Homo sapiens: one gene and its partners. The gene in region 2 interacts genetically with the main gene of each other region. Each region holds a gene or a part of one and is shown on either strand. Other genes may lie near its edges. The genes, in order: SEC24B, IGF2BP1, RAB1A, NPRL3, SEC31A and SLC30A5.

Evidence for each region.
Region 1: changes in IGF2BP1 (region 2) and SEC24B together harm fitness more than expected from each alone (negative genetic interaction), as found in Homo sapiens cells (one large-scale study listed by BioGRID).
Region 3: changes in IGF2BP1 (region 2) and RAB1A together harm fitness more than expected from each alone (negative genetic interaction), as found in Homo sapiens cells (one large-scale study listed by BioGRID).
Region 4: changes in IGF2BP1 (region 2) and NPRL3 together harm fitness more than expected from each alone (negative genetic interaction), as found in Homo sapiens cells (one large-scale study listed by BioGRID).
Region 5: changes in IGF2BP1 (region 2) and SEC31A together harm fitness more than expected from each alone (negative genetic interaction), as found in Homo sapiens cells (one large-scale study listed by BioGRID).
Region 6: changes in IGF2BP1 (region 2) and SLC30A5 together harm fitness less than expected from each alone (positive genetic interaction), as found in Homo sapiens cells (one large-scale study listed by BioGRID).

Annotation. Positions count from the first base shown.
Region 1 is NC_000004.12:109,436,815-109,440,314, forward strand, and holds part of SEC24B (protein transport protein Sec24B), read left to right. Parts: intron 1-3,500. UniProt on the Homo sapiens protein: Component of the coat protein complex II (COPII) which promotes the formation of transport vesicles from the endoplasmic reticulum (ER).
Region 2 is NC_000017.11:49,042,385-49,045,884, reverse strand, and holds part of IGF2BP1 (insulin-like growth factor 2 mRNA-binding protein 1), read right to left. Parts: intron 2,458-3,500; coding exon 2,335-2,457; intron 1,919-2,334; coding exon 1,799-1,918; intron 895-1,798; coding exon 820-894; intron 1-819. UniProt on the Homo sapiens protein: RNA-binding factor that recruits target transcripts to cytoplasmic protein-RNA complexes (mRNPs). This transcript 'caging' into mRNPs allows mRNA transport and transient storage.
Region 3 is NC_000002.12:65,086,354-65,089,230, reverse strand, and holds the end of RAB1A (ras-related protein Rab-1A), read left to right. Parts: intron 1-160; coding exon 161-292; intron 293-540; coding exon 541-738; 3' UTR 739-2,377; downstream 2,378-2,877. UniProt on the Homo sapiens protein: The small GTPases Rab are key regulators of intracellular membrane trafficking, from the formation of transport vesicles to their fusion with membranes.
Region 4 is NC_000016.10:97,174-100,673, forward strand, and holds part of NPRL3 (GATOR1 complex protein NPRL3), read right to left. Parts: intron 3,337-3,500; coding exon 3,199-3,336; intron 1,129-3,198; coding exon 972-1,128; intron 1-971. UniProt on the Homo sapiens protein: As a component of the GATOR1 complex functions as an inhibitor of the amino acid-sensing branch of the mTORC1 pathway.
Region 5 is NC_000004.12:82,874,154-82,877,653, reverse strand, and holds part of SEC31A (protein transport protein Sec31A), read left to right. Parts: intron 1-1,831; coding exon 1,832-1,927; intron 1,928-2,902; coding exon 2,903-3,043; intron 3,044-3,500. UniProt on the Homo sapiens protein: Component of the coat protein complex II (COPII) which promotes the formation of transport vesicles from the endoplasmic reticulum (ER).
Region 6 is NC_000005.10:69,125,014-69,128,291, forward strand, and holds part of SLC30A5 (proton-coupled zinc antiporter SLC30A5), read left to right. Parts: intron 1-2,990; coding exon 2,991-3,119; intron 3,120-3,278. UniProt on the Homo sapiens protein: Together with SLC30A6 forms a functional proton-coupled zinc ion antiporter mediating zinc entry into the lumen of organelles along the secretory pathway.

The DNA of each region.
Region 1 (3,500 bases), on a different chromosome or scaffold from region 2:
TGGGTTGCTGAACATGTGGAGATGCTGGGAGGGTGGCGGCACCTGCCCCCATCCTTTGCCCTGTACATCTCTTTCATTTGGCTGTTCATCTGTATCCTTTGTAATATCCTTTATAATAAACAATAAATTTAAATGTTTTCCTGACTTCCACAAGCCCTTCTACCAAAGTAATTGAACCTAAGGAGGGGGTAGTAGAAACTCCAGTTTGTAACTGGTTCCTCAGAAGTACAGATGGCAACCTGCTACTTGTGATACTTATGATAGGCATCTGAAGTGGGGAGCCATCTTGTGGGACTGAACCCTTAATCTGTGGGATCCGAGTCTAACTTCAGGTAGGTAGTGTCAGAATTGAATTGAGTTGGAGGACCCCCAGTTGGTGTCTGTTGGGGAAAAATAAAAACAAAAATTCACACATCTGGTCACAGAAGTGGTCTGTGCAGAATGAGAGTAGAGTGAAAGAAGTTTTTTGTTTTTTATTGTTTGTTTTAGAGACAGGGTGTCACTCTGCCACCCAGGCTGGAGTCAGTGACTCCATCATAGCTAACTGCAGCCTCAACCTCCTGGGCTCAAGTGATCCTCCTGCCTCAGCTTCCCAAGTAGCTAGGACTATAGGCATGCACTACCACTCCTGGCTAATTATTTTTATTTTTATTTTTGTAGAGACTGAGTCTCACCATGTTGCCCAGGCTGTTCTCTAACTCCTGGCCTCAAGTGATCGTCCTGGCTAGACCTACCAAAGTCTTGCGATTATAGGTGTGAGCCACTGGGCTGGGCCCTGTTTTTTCTTTTACAAGTGGTTAGCAAATGGCAAACTTTTTTTGTTTGTTTGAGACGGAGTCTCGCTGTGTCGCCCAGGCTGGAGTGCAGTGGCACGATCTCAGCTCACTGCAACCTCCACCTCCTGGGTTCAAGCGATTCTCCTGCCTCAGCCTGCTGAGTAGCTGGGCCTACAGGCGCACACCACCACTCCTGGGTAATTTTTGTATTTTTAGTAGAGATGGAGTTTCACCATGTTGGCCAGGATGGTCTCCATCTCCTGACCTTGTGATCCACCTGCCTCGGCCTCCCAGAGTGCTCGGATTACAGACGTGAGCCACCGTGCCTGGCCCACAAACGTTTTTTAAGATTTGTTTTTCCAAAGGATATTGTATATAGATCCCTGATAGAGAAATCAGAAAAAAGCAAAGTGGTTGCGGTTAAAATAGAAGTAGAAGTTCAGTTGTTTTTAAGCACAGTTTGAAAAACACATAGTTTGGATCCCTACCTTTACAGATGAAATGAAGATTCAGAAAGGTTAAGTAGGTACATTTTCTACCAATTCTGTGAAAGCTTTGTGAGGGTGGCAGTTTTTTCTGTCTCTTGTTCACGTTGTATAATAAGAGCCTAGAACAGTATAGGCAAGTTACAGGTATTCATTAGACATGTATTAAATGAAGTCCATTTTATTTTTGCTAATTCCAACTCTAGATCTCTTCTTAAAACTTTTTGTCTGTTTGTTTATTTATTTATTTATTTTAGAGACAGAATCTCACTCTGTCACCCAAGCTGGAGTACAGTGTTGCCATCATAGCTCACTGCAGCCTTGAACTCCTGGGCTCAAGCAGTCTTCCCACCATGGCTTCCTGAGTAGCTGGGACTATAGGTGTGTGACACCATACCCAGCTAACTTTTAAAAAAAAATTTGTAGAGACTGATCTCAAACTCCTGGCTTCAAGTGATCCTCCCATCTAGACTTCCCAAAGTGCTGGGATTACAGGCATGAGCCACCATGCCCAGCCTAAAGATCTCTTTCTGTTAACAGACTCTAAGAAAATTCTTTTTAGAAACTTTGATGTTTGAGAAGAAAGGAATAGAGAGGCAGAAAACCTAGTCTTCATGATCACTTTTACTTGTTTTCTAGGTGTAACTGCTAGCATGTTTCCTCCACTTATTCGAAGATACAGCTTGACTTGATTTCAAGTCTGTGAAATCTTTCTCTTAAGCTTCCTTCCTTGGTGTTGTATTTCTATCCTTCATTTTTCATTGAGCAATATATGGATTTTTAAAACTATTTGTATTTCCATACCAAGCATTAATTGAATATTTCTTACCTTTTACTCTGCCTTTTGGGATTCCTTCCAAAGCTGAGTCCTCAAACGTAGGAAGACTGACTAAAGTAATAGCCTGGTAATGAACTTGTTGGGAGGTGAGGGGATGGGGCAGTCAGATTTAATAATAAGCTGCTGCTTTTTAATTTTACTTTTAGGAAGCAAATGGTGTTCATTTTCAAATGAAAGTATATTTTAATCCTTCCATATGCCCTTTTCCAGAATGAAACTACAGTTTTATCACTTTAATTGTTAATAATGCAAGAAAGATGAGATAGTAATGGGAATTACTAGAACTCACTATGGAAGATGTAAATAAACATACCATTCATACAGCAGTACTATCGGGTCAGTCACTGGAAACCCTTAAACTTTGAGGGCACATGCAGCATTTAAAATGATATAAATCTCCCTAGTGTATCTCAAATAAGTTCCTTTTGATCAGAGCCACATCAGTGTCTCAGGTTTCTAGTCTCCATTTATAGCTAACCGGAAGCATCAGGTCCTCTCATGAATATACCCCTGTGGTATTAAAGTGACTGTGTCTGAATACATAATTTCCTCCTAAGCTGATTTTTTTTTTTTTTTTTTTTTTTTTTTTTTTTTTTTTTTTTTTTTGAGACTGAGTTTCAGTCTTGTTGACCAGGCTGGAATACAATGGCACAATCTCAGCTCACTGCAACCTCCGCCTCCCGGGTTCAAGCGATTCTCCTGCTCAGCCTCCCGAGTAGCTGGGATTACAGGCATGCGCCACCATGCCTGGCTAATTTTGTATTTTTAGTAGAGACAGGGTTTCACTATATTGATCAGGCTGGTCTTGAACTGCTGACCTCAGATGATCCACCCGCCTTAGCCTCCCAAAGTGCTGGGATTACAGGCGTGAGCCACTGAGCCTGGCTCTAAGCTGATTGATAGATATCTCAAAGATCTTAAAGTAGGCCGAGCATGGTGGCTTACGCCTGTAATCCAAGCACTTTGGGAGGCTGAGGCGGGCGGATCACTTGAGGTCAGGAGTTTGAGACCAGCCTGGACGACAGGATGAAACCCGTCTCTACTAAAAATACAAAAATTAGCCAGGCGTGGTGGCAGGTGCCTGTAATCCCAGCTACTCGGGAGGCTGAGGCAGGAGAATCACTTGAACCTGGGAGGTGGAGGTCGTGGTGAGCCAAGATTGTGCCATTGCACTCCAGCCTGGGGGACAAGAGCGAGACTTCGTCGCAAAAAAAAAAAAAAGATCTTAAAGTATTCACTCCATATGTAAACAAGGGTCTTATATCTGGGTTTAATTTTTATTTTTTATTGCTATATATATTGCTTTAGTTGTTTGCAGTGTCTTTTCACTCCCTTCCTCTCCCCCCAAGTTTCTGGGATTGTAGCAGTAATTAATTTTGTAAACCATATTCATTGCCACCA
Region 2 (3,500 bases):
AAGAGGAGGTAATTGTTAATCAGTGGTTCATATATCTGTGACAAAAGAGAAAAGTGGGAAAAAGGAAGCTCCAGCCCATATTTTCTGGCCCACAGGCCCTCCCCATCCTAGGCGGGCTAACCATCTAAGGCAGGTGAAGGGCAAGGCTCAGGTGGGCAGCTTGTCAGCATTCCTTCTGCTTAGCTATCATACTGGAGACCCTGGGTGGAGATTATGAGTTATGAGTAATTGAATAAACACTTCCCAAGGGAAAAAATAGTTCCCAGAGGAATCTAATTCACAAGCTACAAACCAGACCTATGGAATCTGGACGTGGCACTGACCAGCATTTCAAGGCCCTGAATGGCAACTAATCAAGTCACACAGAGGGCAGGCCTGTCTGACTCTCCAGTGGCCCAGAGAGCTGTCCCAGTCCTCTATCCTCACATATGTTAGGTTAAGCTAGTTGATGGTTCATTTTTTGGCTGTCTGATCAGAAGTTCAAGAACCTTAGGATTTAGTGGGGACATAAAAGATGAGAATTTGGCATTAAAGGCCTTCCTTAGAAATGACAGCAGAGTGCAAATAAGATGCCCTCAGACTTCTTTCCTTCCCATCTTCTTCTGTGGACCTTAAAAAGGGAAGACGAAGTCAACAGAAATCCAGTTTGATGTCAATTTGAAAATAGCTCTGCAGCCCTTTATCCTGCATGGAAGGCTTAAAGATGTGATGAGGACTTGACAGCTAACGGGAAACTGACCCAGCCTTTTTCCTACCTCAGGGGAAATACCCAACCTCAATTCCTCCATGTTCAGCTTGGAAAACAATAAAGACCAAAACCTTGAATTGGGCCTCTGGCGGTCCAGTGATGATAACCATACGAACTTTGGAGTCAGGTGTTTCGGGTGGTGCAATCTAAAAAGCAAAAAGCTAGTCAATGAGGGACCCTCTATGGGAAGACCCCCACCATGTCCACTTCATCCAGTTCCCCTTCTACCACCCTTACTCCCAACTACCCATTCTGAAGACTTAGGGGAGGAAGAACAAAGACCCTGAAGCCCACATCATTACGCCTTCACACCAGAATTATTAGGAGGGCAGAGGTGGTCAGTTAGAAGGATTGGCTTCAATGACACTTTCTAAGTAGGGCCTCCTGCCCCCTCCACCTACCAATCTCCCAGAGAGGTTTCAGTGGAGTCTTGCCAACAGGCAAGGACACAAATGAAATGACCAACGGATAGAGGGCAGTGACTGCACCTCCACTGGAGAACAATCAAGGTTTTTGCTCAAAGCTTTTAAGACAACTAAAGCAACCGGATTTAGGTTTGTGAAACTCTAACAGCATCCTTGTTTCACTATGACAGATTCTCCCTTCTCTCTCCCCTGGACCTTGGCCAGGGAAGGTGACAGACAACTAACACTTACTTGGTGTTAGTATGTGAGCGAAGGGCTTTGGCTGCGTAGCCTCATAATATTGTACTGACGAGGAAAGTGAGGCTCAGATCATATAGTGTATTGGGGGAAGGGGTGATGAGATGGATCTTGGATTTGAACCCATCAGTTTGTGTTAGAACCTAAGTTCTCTTTCTATGTTATAACCCTGCCCCTGCCCAGCCTGAAAACCCAGAAGCACTGAAGCCATCCCATGGGGACCAAGCAAGATCAAAAACAAAGAGGACTTCGATTCCATGGGGGAAAGGTCCCTCATATGACACACAGAATTCTCAAATGAGTAGGGGGAATATGGGAGAAAGTGCAGAGTGATAAAAGCAGAGACCCCTCCCTTTCCAGAAACAGGAAGACCCACAGAGCAGATCACCTTGATGGAGGCGCTGGCAAACCGGGAGAGCTGTTTGATGTGCTGCCCCTTCTTGCCGATGATGGCGCCCACTGCCTGGGCGGGGATAAACACCTGCACCATCTCCTGCTCGGGAGCCTGCTGCCAGGATAGGAGGCGTTGTTACCAGGGGGCCCAAGTAGCATGGCCCAGAAACCCTCCACTCCCCTGCCTTGCATCCTCAAGGAGGAAGGAGTACAGGCACCAAACCGCCACCCTGGGCTGCCAAGGGATGCTGTGAGCTCTTTAGCTCTTCCTATGCCCAGTAGGGCTAAAGGGAAGAGGCCAGGAGAGAGTAAGGGAACAGTGCTGTCTATGCCCCGGGAGCATTCTAGGCAGACATTTGGGAGCCTCAGAGCCAGTGGCTAGGAGCACTGGAGAGGAGGGATGCCTCTGAGACCTTCCTTCCCTCTCCCTGCAAACTTGCCAAGCATCCAACTCCCAGAGCATGCTGAGTCCCCCTTAAGGGAGGCCACATATGGGCCCAGGGATCCCGTGTAATAAGATCTTCCACCTACCATAAAGGAGCTATAGGGAGCAGCCCCAGTAACGCTGCTGGGAGGCGGCGGGACTGCGCTGGATGAAGCTGGGAAAAGACCTACAGCAGCCAGGTTCAGGCCAGGGATCAGGTGAGACTGCAGCTGGGGAAGAAAGATGAGGAGGAAGAGTCAGCACACCCTGACAGGGGCTTGTGTGTGACCCCCGCTGTATAAAAGGCGAGTAGCCCCAGAGGCAAGTGGGCCAAAAACATGAATTACATACTTTTCCACAAAAGCCTATTCTGTGCTTTTCATACACTCTCACCTACACACTTCGGGTGTGGAATTTTAAGTGATATGATGTTCTCACTGGACTAACGGCTAGCAATTGCAACCAGAAATGCCAAACAGTTGTACACCCTCAGGAGTCCTTCCTCTCTGGCTGTTCAGACTGCTGGAGACAGACGATAGACCCATGACACTATACTATAACCCCCTATATGAGAAAAAGGCGTGGAGACAGAGCTCCATTGGACTTCTAGGACTCTGATTCTAAACATTTTTGGTCCTGTACCCCAACCCCAAGTCTCCTTTAAAAATCAGATGAGTTGTGTGCAGTGGCTCATGCTTATAATCCTAGTACTTTGGGAGGCCAAGGTAGGAGAATCGCTTGAGCCCAGGAGTTCTAGACCAACCTGGGTGACACAGCAAGACCCTGTTTCCAAAAAATAAAATTTTAAAAAATTAGCTGGGCATGGTGGTGTACACCTGTAGTCTCCTAGGTACTTGGGAGGCTGAAGCAGGAGTATTCCTTGAGCCCAGGGGGTCAAGGCTGCAGTAAGCTATGATTGCGCCATTGTGCTCCAACCTGGGCAACATACCAAGACCCTGTCTCAAAAAAATAAAATAAAAATCAGATGAAAACGATGGACCCCCTCATTTCAATAAAGTGCACACAAACACAAATTGTACACATACTTGGAATCACAGGACTCAAAGCCCAAGATTGGACCCCTACTCTAGGAACCAGGTGAAGAATCCTTGCTAATTAAATACTATTTAAATACTATTTCTGATAGTCGAAGTCCAAAAGCATCAACTAAAGCTCCAAGGCCACACGGCACAGGGCACATGTCCATCACCCTGCACCCCACAAGCTGCTGTTGCTAAGACTCAGGAAAGGATAAGCAGAGGGTACTACCCAG
Region 3 (2,877 bases), on a different chromosome or scaffold from region 2:
AAAAAAAAAAATCTCTTCACTCCTTAGCAGTGGTTATTTTGTAGCTAGAGTTGTCTCACTAGCTCTTTGTTATTTGTCTGTTAGGTCAGGAACGATGTTTCTGTTTATTCCAGAACTATATTATCGAACTATATTATCAGTCTTTCAAATGTCTTTTTAGGAGTCCTTCAATAATGTTAAACAGTGGCTGCAGGAAATAGATCGTTATGCCAGTGAAAATGTCAACAAATTGTTGGTAGGGAACAAATGTGATCTGACCACAAAGAAAGTAGTAGACTACACAACAGCGAAGGTATGTTTAAAGTTTAATTTTCATACTGAATTTGAAGGTGTTGAATTATGTATGGGTTCTGCAGTAACAGTAAGGCCACAGCCTTTTAAAAATATGTGCACTAGAATACTGTGACAGTGACAATTTGTGTAGCATCTGTTTGGATCCAATGAACTTAGTTCCTCACGCTCCATTATGGATGGTAGAAATGCACTAAGAATTAGTGAAAAAGATTTTTCAGTGTTAATTGTGCCTCATTATTCTCTTAGGAATTTGCTGATTCCCTTGGAATTCCGTTTTTGGAAACCAGTGCTAAGAATGCAACGAATGTAGAACAGTCTTTCATGACGATGGCAGCTGAGATTAAAAAGCGAATGGGTCCCGGAGCAACAGCTGGTGGTGCTGAGAAGTCCAATGTTAAAATTCAGAGCACTCCAGTCAAGCAGTCAGGTGGAGGTTGCTGCTAAAATTTGCCTCCATCCTTTTCTCACAGCAATGAATTTGCAATCTGAACCCAAGTGAAAAAACAAAATTGCCTGAATTGTACTGTATGTAGCTGCACTACAACAGATTCTTACCGTCTCCACAAAGGTCAGAGATTGTAAATGGTCAATACTGACTTTTTTTTTATTCCCTTGACTCAAGACAGCTAACTTCATTTTCAGAACTGTTTTAAACCTTTGTGTGCTGGTTTATAAAATAATGTGTGTAATCCTTGTTGCTTTCCTGATACCAGACTGTTTCCCGTGGTTGGTTAGAATATATTTTGTTTTGATGTTTATATTGGCATGTTTAGATGTCAGGTTTAGTCTTCTGAAGATGAAGTTCAGCCATTTTGTATCAAACAGCACAAGCAGTGTCTGTCACTTTCCATGCATAAAGTTTAGTGAGATGTTATATGTAAGATCTGATTTGCTAGTTCTTCCTTGTAGAGTTATAAATGGAAAGATTACACTATCTGATTAATAGTTTCTTCATACTCTGCATATAATTTGTGGCTGCAGAATATTGTAATTTGTTGCACACTATGTAACAAAACAACTGAAGATATGTTTAATAAATATTGTACTTATTGGAAGTAATATCAAACTGTATGGTGATAAGTATTGTTTTGATTCTTATGGTTAAAGGGAAATAGAGCCTTGCATTATATTCAACACAGCCATTTGTGTGTGCACAATGCAAACTAAGGTATTCTAGACCTATCTTAGAGCAGCATCCAGTATTTGCTTTCTAGATAATATGCCCAATAACATGACCTAGAGGGGCTTCTGTGCTGTGTAGGGATTTAACCAACTTCAGTGGTTCAGGGAGCTCAAACTATATGTAAAACAAGTTTAGAATGTATGCTATCTAGCCCGTTATCTCTGATCCTTCTCTAAAACCATTTGAAATAGCTTCATTGATCAACATTTCATAAATGCATCTGTGGTAGAGGTAGAAAGCAGCACCTTTCCTAATTGGCAAATGATCAGACTAATGTGTGCTAATGTTTTTCTTCCATGCTTTCAGTCAGATTCAACTATTTTATCCTCCACAGTTGCTTAACTTGGTGTTGGAGGAGGGTTTAAGCATTAAGATAGGAAGCAGGAAATTTGATTGCTCTAAATTTAGAAATTATATCCCTAAAAATTAAAACATGAATACTGGGTGGTAATGATAATTGAGGCAAATGTATTTATTTTGGTGACATTTTGCATATATGAAGATTTTCTGAAATAGGACCTTCAAGATCCTAGGGGGTTTTGTTTGGTTTTTAATTGTGAGGAATAAAAAATCTTCTGCCCACACTGGCATTTTAAGGTGACTGAGGTCAAACGTTGTTTCCTTAGGTTGAAATAGCAGCCAAAACATTCTTCACGCAGGGGCTTGGGATATGGCTGCTGGCAACACATTTTGTTGTGGGCTCCTTAATTTAATGATAAAATTTAAGCTAAACACAAGCCAAAAATGAATAGGTTTTTTTAATTTTTATTTTTCACTAAACAGGCAATTGAAATACATGGTACAAAAATAAGTGGTAAGATAATTGTAAAATGAAATGGACAGAATATTCAATTTTCCATCTATGAAAATTTCACAATAAAAATCATAGTTTACTTTGTATTATAGGCGTGCTTGGTGGATCTATTCATCCTCACATAAGGCAACTGACAAATTCCTGAAGTTACCAATAGTTATTTTGGTGAAGATCTTTAATGCTTCAGAAGTTTTGTTTTTGCCTTAATACAGTATAAAGGGGGAAAGAGTTCAGAAACTATTTTCTAAAGTAGCTAAATGACACAAAACAAATGTCAAGATACTGTGATGCCATGCCGTGCACTTCATTTTTACACAGTAAAAGTTGTTTAAATTGTCAGCTTATTCTTGGTGAGTTAGCGGAAACATTACATGAACTTAAGATGAGCATATTTACAGACTTAAGTTTGGAAAATTCCAGCGTTCTTTTCCCCATGGCAGTAAAGATTGGGATTTACAACAAATTTCAGCATGCCTTAAGATTTGCTTCTATGTATACGCCAATAAATGTGGTTCTGGAAAAAATATATACCCCTTTATACCCCCATTTTCAAGTACAAACGGTTCAAAGCTACTACAGGTTTTAA
Region 4 (3,500 bases), on a different chromosome or scaffold from region 2:
CGCCCACATGACTAGCAGCCACAGCTGATCCCATGGCCTGTTGGCCACCCCATCAGCAGCCCCTGCTTCTGATTTCTCCCCGTGCTTTTTTTTTTTTTGGAAACAGAGTCGCCCAGGCTGGAGTACAGTGGCACAATCTCAGCTAACTGCAACCTCTGCCTCCCAGGCTCAATTGATCCTCACACCTCATACCCCCAAGTAGCTGGGACTACAGGTGCACGCCACCACACCCAGCTATTTTTTTTTTTTTTTTTTTTGTATTTTTTGTAGAGACGGGGTTTTGCCATGTTGCTCAGGCTGGTCTCAAAGTCCTGGGCTAGGATGACAGGCATGAGCCACCGTGCCCAGCCTTGCCTGCGCTTTTCCTCCCACACTCCAACCAGATCCGCAGACGAGGCTGAGGGGCCCTCCATCTAATCAGAAAGGGCAGCCCTCTGCATGGACAGGCCCATAAGCATGTGGCTCAGCAAGGACGTGGCATCTTGTACAGAGTGCACAGGCCAACACATGTGCACACACAGGGGCGTAAGGCCACCAGGTTAGGTCTCTGTTCTGCACATGGGAGGGCCCCGCATCCAAGCTTCCTGCCCTTAGTTCCCGTATGTTGTTCATGCACCACTGTGAGACCCCCATGGCCCTGCCCGCTGCTGCCCTGCCCACCCCCTAGCTCTGGTGCCTCAACCTCCAGGACTGCAAGCACCCCAGTCCTTTCTCTCACAGACTCGCCTTACCTCTCTGAGACAGAAGAACAAGTCAGTCCCGTGGCTCACTCACAAAGCCAGCCCTGAACCCAGGTCTGACTCAGATGCCAAAACCTCCAGCCATCCCAGGGACTGGCCCCACCCCATGGTGGGCTGTGCCGCGGCTCTCAGCTGGACACAGCCCCTGTGGATGTACTGTGGCAGGCGGCCTGCCTTTCCTGATGCCCCAGCACCGCCACATGCCACCCATCTGGGCCTCCAGAGCTATACCTGCAGCAAGGCCAGGTCCGCATCTTGGGCTAGCTGCTGCAGGTTCTTCACAGCAGATGTGGTCTTGATCACCCGCACTAGGGCAGGGGAGCAGTCAATAGGAAGCTCACCCAGCAAGGACTTCTCATCACTGAGCAGCAGCAGGGCATGGTAGGGGCTGCAAAACAATCACCTGTCACGGAACACACGAAGTGCAGGAACCCTGCACCGGGTATGCACCAGGTCCTGCACCAGGTATGCACCGGGTATGCACCAGGTCCTGCACCAGGTATGCACCGGGTATGCACCAGGTATGCACCTGGGACTCAAACACACGGAACATACGAAGTGCAGGGAACCCTGCACCAGGTATGCACCAGGTCCTGCACGAGGTCCTGCACCGGGTGTGCATCAGGTATGCACCTGGGACACAAACAGGCAGCTGGAGCCTCCTGGCCCTTAACTGCGGAGAGAAGGGCCAAGAGCGGGATTTGAGAAAAGGGCAGTGGTCTGTTTGGAGGCCTTCACAAAATCTGCCAAGGACTGGCTCATGCCTATAATCCCGGCACTCTGGGAGGCCAAGGCAGGCAGGTCACGTGAGGTCAGGAGTTCGAGGCCAGCCTGGCCAACATGGTGAAACCCCATCTCTACTAAAAATAAAAAAATTATCCGGGTGTGGTTGCACCCACCTGGGGTCCCAGCTACTCGGCAGGCTGAGGCAGGAGAATCACTTGAGCCTGGGAGGCGGAGCTTGCAGTGAGCCGAGATTGCGCCATTGCACTCCAGCCTGGCGACAGAGTGAGACTCTGTCTCAAAAACAACAAAAACAAAACCTGCAAGGATTATGTCACCCTCGGAAAAAAACACGACAAAAGTGGGGAAGGCTCGAAGACTGGACTCTGTATCCCACCTCAGAGACGCCCAGCAAACATCTGTTGATTGAAGACATGAATGAATCTTTCCTAAGGAAATTGTCCCAAATATGGGAAAAGCAAAATCCTCCTCACAGACTAGGGACCAAAGTACATTAAAATATGCTTAGCTAGGATTGAAAGCAAAGAGCACGGACTGGGGAGGGTGGAACTAGGCAGCGCTTTGCTTTCTGTCATTTCCAAATTTTCAGCAATGTGCCCAGATATATTTTTATAATTAAAAAATGTTCAAGGTATTGGGGGACTTGGGAACAGGTGGTGCCAGAAGACTGGGCTCAGTTCTTTCCTTGCAGAAAATCAATTAAATTGCCAGGGCATGGTGGCTAACACCTGTAACCCAGCACTTTGGCAGGCCGAGGCGGGTGGATCACGAGGTCAGGAGTTCAAGACGAGCCTGGCCAACATGGTGAAACCCCATCTCTACTAAAAATACAAAAATTAGCCAGGTGTAGTGGTGTGCACCCATAATCCCAGCTACTCAGGGGGCTGAGGCAGGAGAATCGCTTGAACCCGGGAGACAGAGGCTTCACTGAGTGGAGACTGTGCCACTGCACTTGAGCCCCGAGCAAGACTACATCTCAAAAAAAAAAAAAAAAAAGTCAATTAAATTAAGAAAGTATATTTTGGGAGGCTGAGATGAGCGATGAGTGGATCACCTGAGGTCAGGAGTTCGAGACCAGTCTGGCCAACATGGTGAAACCCTGTCTCTACTAAAAGTACCAAAAAAATTAGCCAGGCATGGCAGTGGGCGCCTGTAATCCCAACTACTCGGGAGCCTGAGGCAGGAGAATCACTTGAACTTGGGAGGTGGACGTAGTGGTGAGCCGGGATCGCACTACTGAAATCCAGCCTGGGCGATAAGATCAAAACTCTGTCTCTCTCTCACACACACACACACCCCCGCAAAAAAAAAAAAAAAAAAGAAAAAGAAAAAAAAAAGAAAAAGAAAATAACTGAGATCCCATGAGTGCTGACTGAAATGCAAAAGACTGGGGTAGGGCAACACCATTAAGATGAAGTCCCTCCAGCCCTCCGGCCTCCCCAAGGACACTCAGCCCCACATCCAGGCTGCCCTGCCCAAGCCTAAGGTGGTGCCAGAAGGGCCCAGGAGAAACCTGGGATTGGTCATTTCTGGACACAACTGGATACAAAATTATGTGTTTTAACTTCTATAAACGGCAGAGCCCCACCTGCAAGCTTCCGCAGTGGGAAGAAGAAAAAGAGAAATTTTGGAACAAAGTAAGTGGTAAAATCTCAGGCAGAAGCTAAAGGGAAGGGCCCTGGCAGGGAGTGAGCACGTGGGGCTGGGCACTTACCGGATGGCTTTCAGGCTCCGTTCGATGGCCTCTGGGGGGATCAGACTGGAGGCCGCATAGTGGATCTTGTGGGGCAGGCAGAAGCTCACCTCCAGCCAGCTGTTGATGTGAAGCCGAACTACGCCCGACGTGCACAGGCTGCAGAGAGTGGGCGCTGTTACCCGTTCACATAAACTTTCTAACCATGCACACAGATCAGAAAACACCCTGCTCAATGGTGCTGATTCCCCTGCTGCTTAGGGGAAACTGCAGGTGGAGACCCGGGCAGGAGAGCATCTCTTAAGATCACATTATGTTTAAGA
Region 5 (3,500 bases), on a different chromosome or scaffold from region 2:
TTGCCTTCATAAACATTTCTGGTTGTTAATTATATAAATGCACAGCTTAATAACGATCTTAGCCTGAACAGGATGGTGAAACCCTGTCATTACAAAAAATGCAAACAATTAGCAGAACATGGTGGCACACGCCTGTAGTCTCAGCTACACGGGAGGCTGAGGTAGGTTGATGGCTTTAGCCTGGGAGGTCTACGCTGCAGTGAGCTATGATCACACCACTGCACTGCAACCTGGGTGACACATAGAGACCCTGTCTGGAAAAAAAAAAAAGACCTTGAGTTAATAGGATACTAGATTATAACAACCAAAAATGAGTATTAAGAAAATTTTAAATAGTTCCTTTTCTTATATTATAAATAGATACTTAGGGTATAGCAATACAGAAACCCAACTTGTTTATTTCTTTTTTGTTGTTGTTTTTTGTTTTTTGAAACAGCGTCTTGCTCCCTCTGCCAGGCTGGACTGCAGTGGCTCATGACTCACTGCAGTCTTGACCTCCTGGGCTCAAGCAAGTCTTCTGTCTCAGCCACCTGAGTAGCTGGGACTACAGGCATGAGCCACAACACCTGGCTAATTTTTGTAGAGACAGGGTTTTTTCGTGTTGGTCAAGCTGGTCCCAAACTCCTGGGCTCAAGTGGTCTGTCTGCCTCAGCCTCCCAAAGTGCTGTGACTACAGGCATGAGCCACTGTGCCCAGCCTTCGTTTCTATAGTTTGTGGTATCTGCTCTTTAGCTAACTCCTTTGTTAATTGTATTGAACAGCTGATGATTTTTAATAAAGTATTTTGTGTTATAGGTAGCTACTACCATAGAATGTCTCCCTTTTTTTAGTTATATGCCAACTGATAGAGAATAATTTGTAAGAGTAAATAGTAGTGGATGAAGGTCAGTATATGAAGCCCATTATCTTCCTGTACTTTATATTACAATTTCAGGTTCTTTTTGACCCTTAAGGTATGTACCAGAGAAAACCTAGAAATATTGCCACCTGGAATAAGATTGAGTGTATATGAACTAGAAATATGTGAAGAGTTATGACAAGAGATTTTACTAGTGCTGTATTGATTCAGCTCTGGAAGCTGGCTTTGAGGTATCCTGAGAAAGATGCCACAGTTTTAGGATTCAGCTTTTTCTGAAAGCAATAATTGATGACCTTTTTAATCTTATAATTAAATCTCCTTCCAGAGATGCAAAGATACAAACAGTAATCCTCACATGGTTGCATGACTGATTAAGAATTTATCCAGCCAGGTTTGGTGGCTCACGCCTGTAATCCCAGCACTTTGGGAGGCCGAGGCAGGTGGATCACCTGAGGTCAGGAGTTTGAGACCAGCCTGACCAACATGGAGAAACCCCGTCTCTACTAAAAATACAGAATTAGCCGGGAGTGGTGGTGCATGCCTGTAATCCTAGCTACTCGGGAGGCTGAGGCAGGAGAATCACTTGGACCCGGGAGGCGGAAGTTGTGGTGAGCTGAGATTGCACCATTGCACTCCAGCCTGGGCAACAAGAGCAAAACTCCATCTCAAAAAAAAAAAAAAAAAAAAGAATTTATCCATATAATTTTTAAAATAATATCTTGCATTAAAATTAATTTGTTCTCAGTAGACATCTTTTGTCTTTGTTAAGTAGAATTTTATGTTTTTCTAGAAAACTTTAAATTTTGAAAGAATTATGCATAATTTAGAAATTCATGCATATGTTTTTCACTTTTCAAATTAAATAGAAAAATTGTGTATGCTACATCTAATATCTTTCTAGCTCTGAACTGAGTTATTCTGAATTTTCTTAATTATTCATAAGTGCTATTTAGTTATGGTTTCTTCTTGCAGACTAATCTGGTAGCTTCTGGTGCTAATGAATCTGAAATCTACATATGGGATCTAAATAATTTTGCAACCCCAATGACACCAGGAGCCAAAACACAGGTATTTTTATATTGATTTTGATCATTGTAATCAAAAAAGCCAAAAGTAGTTCTCCTAAACCTACTTATTTCACTTTTAAGGCTTCTCACACAAAACATATATGTTTAAAATCATTGTTTAGATATTACTGATTTTTCTTCAGTAATTAATAAATATGTTTCTTCAAAGTATCAGTGAGTCCATCAAGAGTAAATATTTATTTAGTACCTACCACCTGGTAGACACTGGTCATTGTACTAGGCATACAGTAGTAAACAAAATGAACAAAAATCCTTAATAATTGTCTTAGATATAGTATAATTATTTTTGTTCTTTGTGTGATAGTTGCTCTGTGTTTTGGCAACAACCAACCTTCTTAAAACACACTTAGACAAGACCATGGAAGACAAGGTTTAAAATAAATACCTCAAGCCCTTTGCTTGTGTATTTCTATTAAGTTTGGTAACAACAGTCTTCTCCTGTTCTTCCCTGAGTTTCTTTATGTTGTATAGGCTATCCAACTTGAGTAGCCATTGTAACTGGCTCTAACATTTTGGCAATCTGAGAGGTAGCATAATGACAGCATATGCACTACCATTTATAAAGGTATTTTGCTAATGGTCTAGGCTGTAATTTTGCCCTGCCTAGTTTTCTGTCATAGTCACCAACATCTACTTTGTGGTCCATAATCTACCTTGCAGCAGTTGCAAAGTAAAGAAACAGTACTTGGTTTATAGCAGAAATTCAATAAAATTCTTGTTGAATGAGATATTATGAAACAAGATAATACACTTGAAGTGGTATGTACCTGCATTTTAAGTCATATAATTTTATGTGTTGAGAATGTAGAGATGTAGGACTATAAAGCAAATTTGTGGCATAAATGGATCAGATTTTTAAGTAATACACTTTTCAAAATGAAGGATCCAATTTTACAGTTAAATTTGATTATAATAGAGAAACAAGCAGTTTTTATTAACTGTTTCTTCCTTGTAGCCGCCAGAAGATATCAGCTGCATTGCATGGAACAGACAAGTTCAGCATATTTTAGCATCAGCCAGTCCCAGTGGCCGGGCCACTGTATGGGATCTTAGAAAAAATGAGCCAATCATCAAAGTCAGTGACCATAGTAACAGAGTAAGTATGTGATTGACTTGTGATGAACATGTTGTATTTCTGCTGTAGGTATTCCTATATTGTTTGTCAGAGTTGACAACAAATCAAATTTCTGTGAAGTCAAATCCTGTTTTTTTATTAATCAGTCATGTTAGAAGGAATGTTTTGTTTTTTTTCCTCTAAGGGAAAATCATAAAATTCCCAATAAATATGTTGGATATTATTAATGATGAAGAGAGATTGGTTAATCAAGGAACTTATTCCATGATATACTGGTGGTTTTGCTTTGCTAGCTGTTTTAAAACATTGCAGCAACTTTTTTTTTTTTTTTCTTGAGACGGAGTCTCGCTTTGTCGCCCAGGCTGGAGTACAGTGGCGTGATCTCGGCTCACTGCAACCTCTGCCTCCTGGGTTCAAGCACTTCTCCTGCCCCAGCCTTCCGAGTAGCTGAGATTACAGGCATGCACCATCAAGCCCG
Region 6 (3,278 bases), on a different chromosome or scaffold from region 2:
CATAAAAGGCAGACCAGGAAAAAACATTTGCAGCACATATAAACAGGCAAAGGTTTACTGTCCATAATTCTTTAAGTCAAGAAAAAGACAATCTTAGCTGTGCATGGTGGCTCATGCCTGTAATCCAGCACTTTGGGAGGCTGAGGTGAGCAGATCACCTGAGGCCAGGAGTTCAAGGTCAGCCTGGCCAACATGGTGAAAGTCCATCTCTACTAAAAATACAAAAATTAGGGTCGGGCACGGTGGCTCACGCCTGTAATCCCAGCACTTTGGGAGGCTGAGGCAGGCAGATCACGAGGTCAGGTGATTGAGACCATCCTGGCTAACATGATGAAACCCCATCTCTACTAAAAATATAAAAAATTAGCCGGGCATGGTGGCGGGCACCTGTAATCCAAGCTACTCAGGAGGCTGAGTCAGTAGAATCGCTTGAACCCAGGAGGTGGAGGTTGCAGTGAGCTGAGATCACGCCATGGCAACAGAGCGAGACTGGCAACAGAGCGAGACTCTGTCCTTCCCCACACACAAAAAAAAAAATTAGGCCTGGCACGGTGGCTCAGGCCTGTAATCCCAGCACTTTGGGAGGCCAAGGCTGGCGGATCACAAGGTCAGGAGATTGAGACCATCCTGGCTAACATGGTGAAACCCCGTCTCTACTAAAAAAAAATACAAAAAATTAGCCAGGCACCGTGGTGGGCACCTGTAGTCCCAGCTCCTCGGGAGGCTGAGGCAGGAGAATGGCATGAACCTGGGAGGCGGAGCTTGCAGTGAGCCATGAACCTGGGAGGCGGAGCTTGCAGTGAGCCGAGATCACGCCACTGCACTCCAGCCCGGGCCACAGAGCGAGACTCCGTCTCAAAAAAAAAAAAAAAAAAAAAAAAAATTAGCTGGGTGTAGTAGTATCGCACACCTGTAATCCCAACTACCTGAGTGGCTGAAGCATGAGAATCACTTCAACCCAGGAGGCAGAGGTTGCAGTGAGCCAAAAATCACACCACTGTACTCCAGCCTGGGCAACAGAGCAAGACTGTCTCAAAGGAAAAACAGTCATGTAGAAAAATAAGATGAGAATATAAACCAGCAATTCCTAGAAATAAACAAATATAAAATAGACTCTCTTTCACCTCGTGGTTTACTACATCATATTAAAGTAATTGGGATCTGCTGATGAAAAGATAGCATCTTGAATATTTAAGTTCTATCATCTTAACCCATTGTTTTCATAAATAAAATTAGTAAAGTTATCTCACCTCATAGTTATTGGATAGTAGTACATCATGGGGTTTTTTTAAGTTTTTGTTTGTTTGTTTTGTTTTTAAATAGAGCTGGGGTTTCTCAATGTTGCCCGGGCTGGTCTTGAAATCCTGAGCTCAAGCTTTGGCCTTCCAAAGTGAGGGATTATGGGCGTGAGCCACCGCGCCTGGCCTAAAGTATTTTTTATTTCAATAATAATATATGTCTGTTGTAGGCCAGGCGTGGCGGCTCACACCTGTAATCCCAGAACTTTGGGAGGCCGAGGCGGGCGGATCACAAGGTCAGGAGTTTGAGACCAGCCTGGTCAATATGGTGAAACCCCATCTCTACTAAAACTACAAAAAATACAAAAATTAGCTGGGTGTGGTGGCACGTGCCTGTAGTCCCAGCTATTCGGGAGGCTGAGGCAGAAGAATCGCTTGAACCCAGGAGGCAGAGGTTGCAGTGAGCCGAGATCACACCACTGCACTCCAGCCTGGGCGACAGAGTGAGACTCTGTCTTAAAAAAACAAACAAACAAACAACAACAACAACAACAACAAAATATATATATATATGTATATATATCCATTGCAGAAAACTTCAAAATATAGAAAAGTGCAAAAAAGAAAAAAAAAAATCACATAATTTTACCACCTGGAAAGAAATACTTTTTGTTTCCTTCCCATTCTACAAAAAGCCATGTAAAGAAACATTTTTACAAGTTGTTTCCATATTAAAATTTTGAAAATAAAAATGGCAAAAAACTTTCGTAATGTTTTATAAATTTTCTCCCCACTTAATAATGTCATGTTGATTAATATTCTAATACATTGTTAATGACTGCATTATTACATTGTATGGGCAGTCAATCATTTATTTAACCAATCCTCTGTTGTTGAACATTGAGGATATCTTTTGAATGTGTTATCTCTATATAACAAATAATGTGCATATGAATGTGTCCGTGTAAAGGAGAACTTGTAGTTCATTGAATGTGTCTAGGTCATGATTAGAATAGGCAGAGTTGTGCTGTATCAGGGAAAATAAGGGTACTGCTATTGATAAGAGCCCATTTTAGGTATAAAGATAACTGTAACAGCTGGGCACGGTGGTCCACACCTATAATCCTAGCACTTCGGGAGGCTGAGGTGGGTGGATTGCCTGAACTCAGGAGTTCGAGACCAGCCTGGGCAACATGGTGAAACCCCATCTGTACTAAAATACAAAAAAAAAAAAAAAAAAAAAATTTAGCCAGGCGTGGTGGCGTGCACCCGTAGTCAGCTACTTGGGAGGCTGAGGCAGGAGAATTGCCTGAACCTGGGAGGCTGAGGTTGCAGTGAGCCAAGATGGTGCCACTGCACTCCAGCCTGCGACAGAGCAAGACTGTCTCAAAAAAAACAAAAACGAACAAAATAAAGATACCTGTAACACCCATTTGCCTTCCTACTCAGAGCTGCCATACTAGCATCATTCCTAGGTGAGATTTTTTTTCCCCCACACATCTGTAGCCTCCAGAAATAGATCAGAATATTTTAGGCACCTTTACTTTAAGCTATTTTCCCATCTCCTATTCCTTCCTGCTTCTGGCTTCTCATTATGGCTGGTTTTTTGTTTGTTTTGTTTTGTATTTTAAAGAGCTTAATAGTGATCCTGGACCAAGGAATCTGTGTGTTTACTTTCTGTCAGAAAGCATCTCCATTGTGTTGTGTAAAGTAGCCTGTATGACCATTTATATCACCTCTTTTATTTGACAGATACAGAAAATTGAAGGATTAATATCATACCGAGACCCTCATTTTTGGCGTCATTCTGCTAGTATTGTGGCAGGAACAATTCATATACAGGTGACATCTGATGTGCTAGAACAAAGAATAGTACAGCAGGTAATCTTTTGTTTTTAAAGTAATTTTAATTGAGGTCATTCATACCCAAAATTGTACACCTCATAAGTTATATGGCTCAGTAGTCATTTACTATTCAGAAATATCAATCTTCCAACTCTTTTTTTTTTTTTTTTTTTGAGACAGGGTCTCACTCTGTTG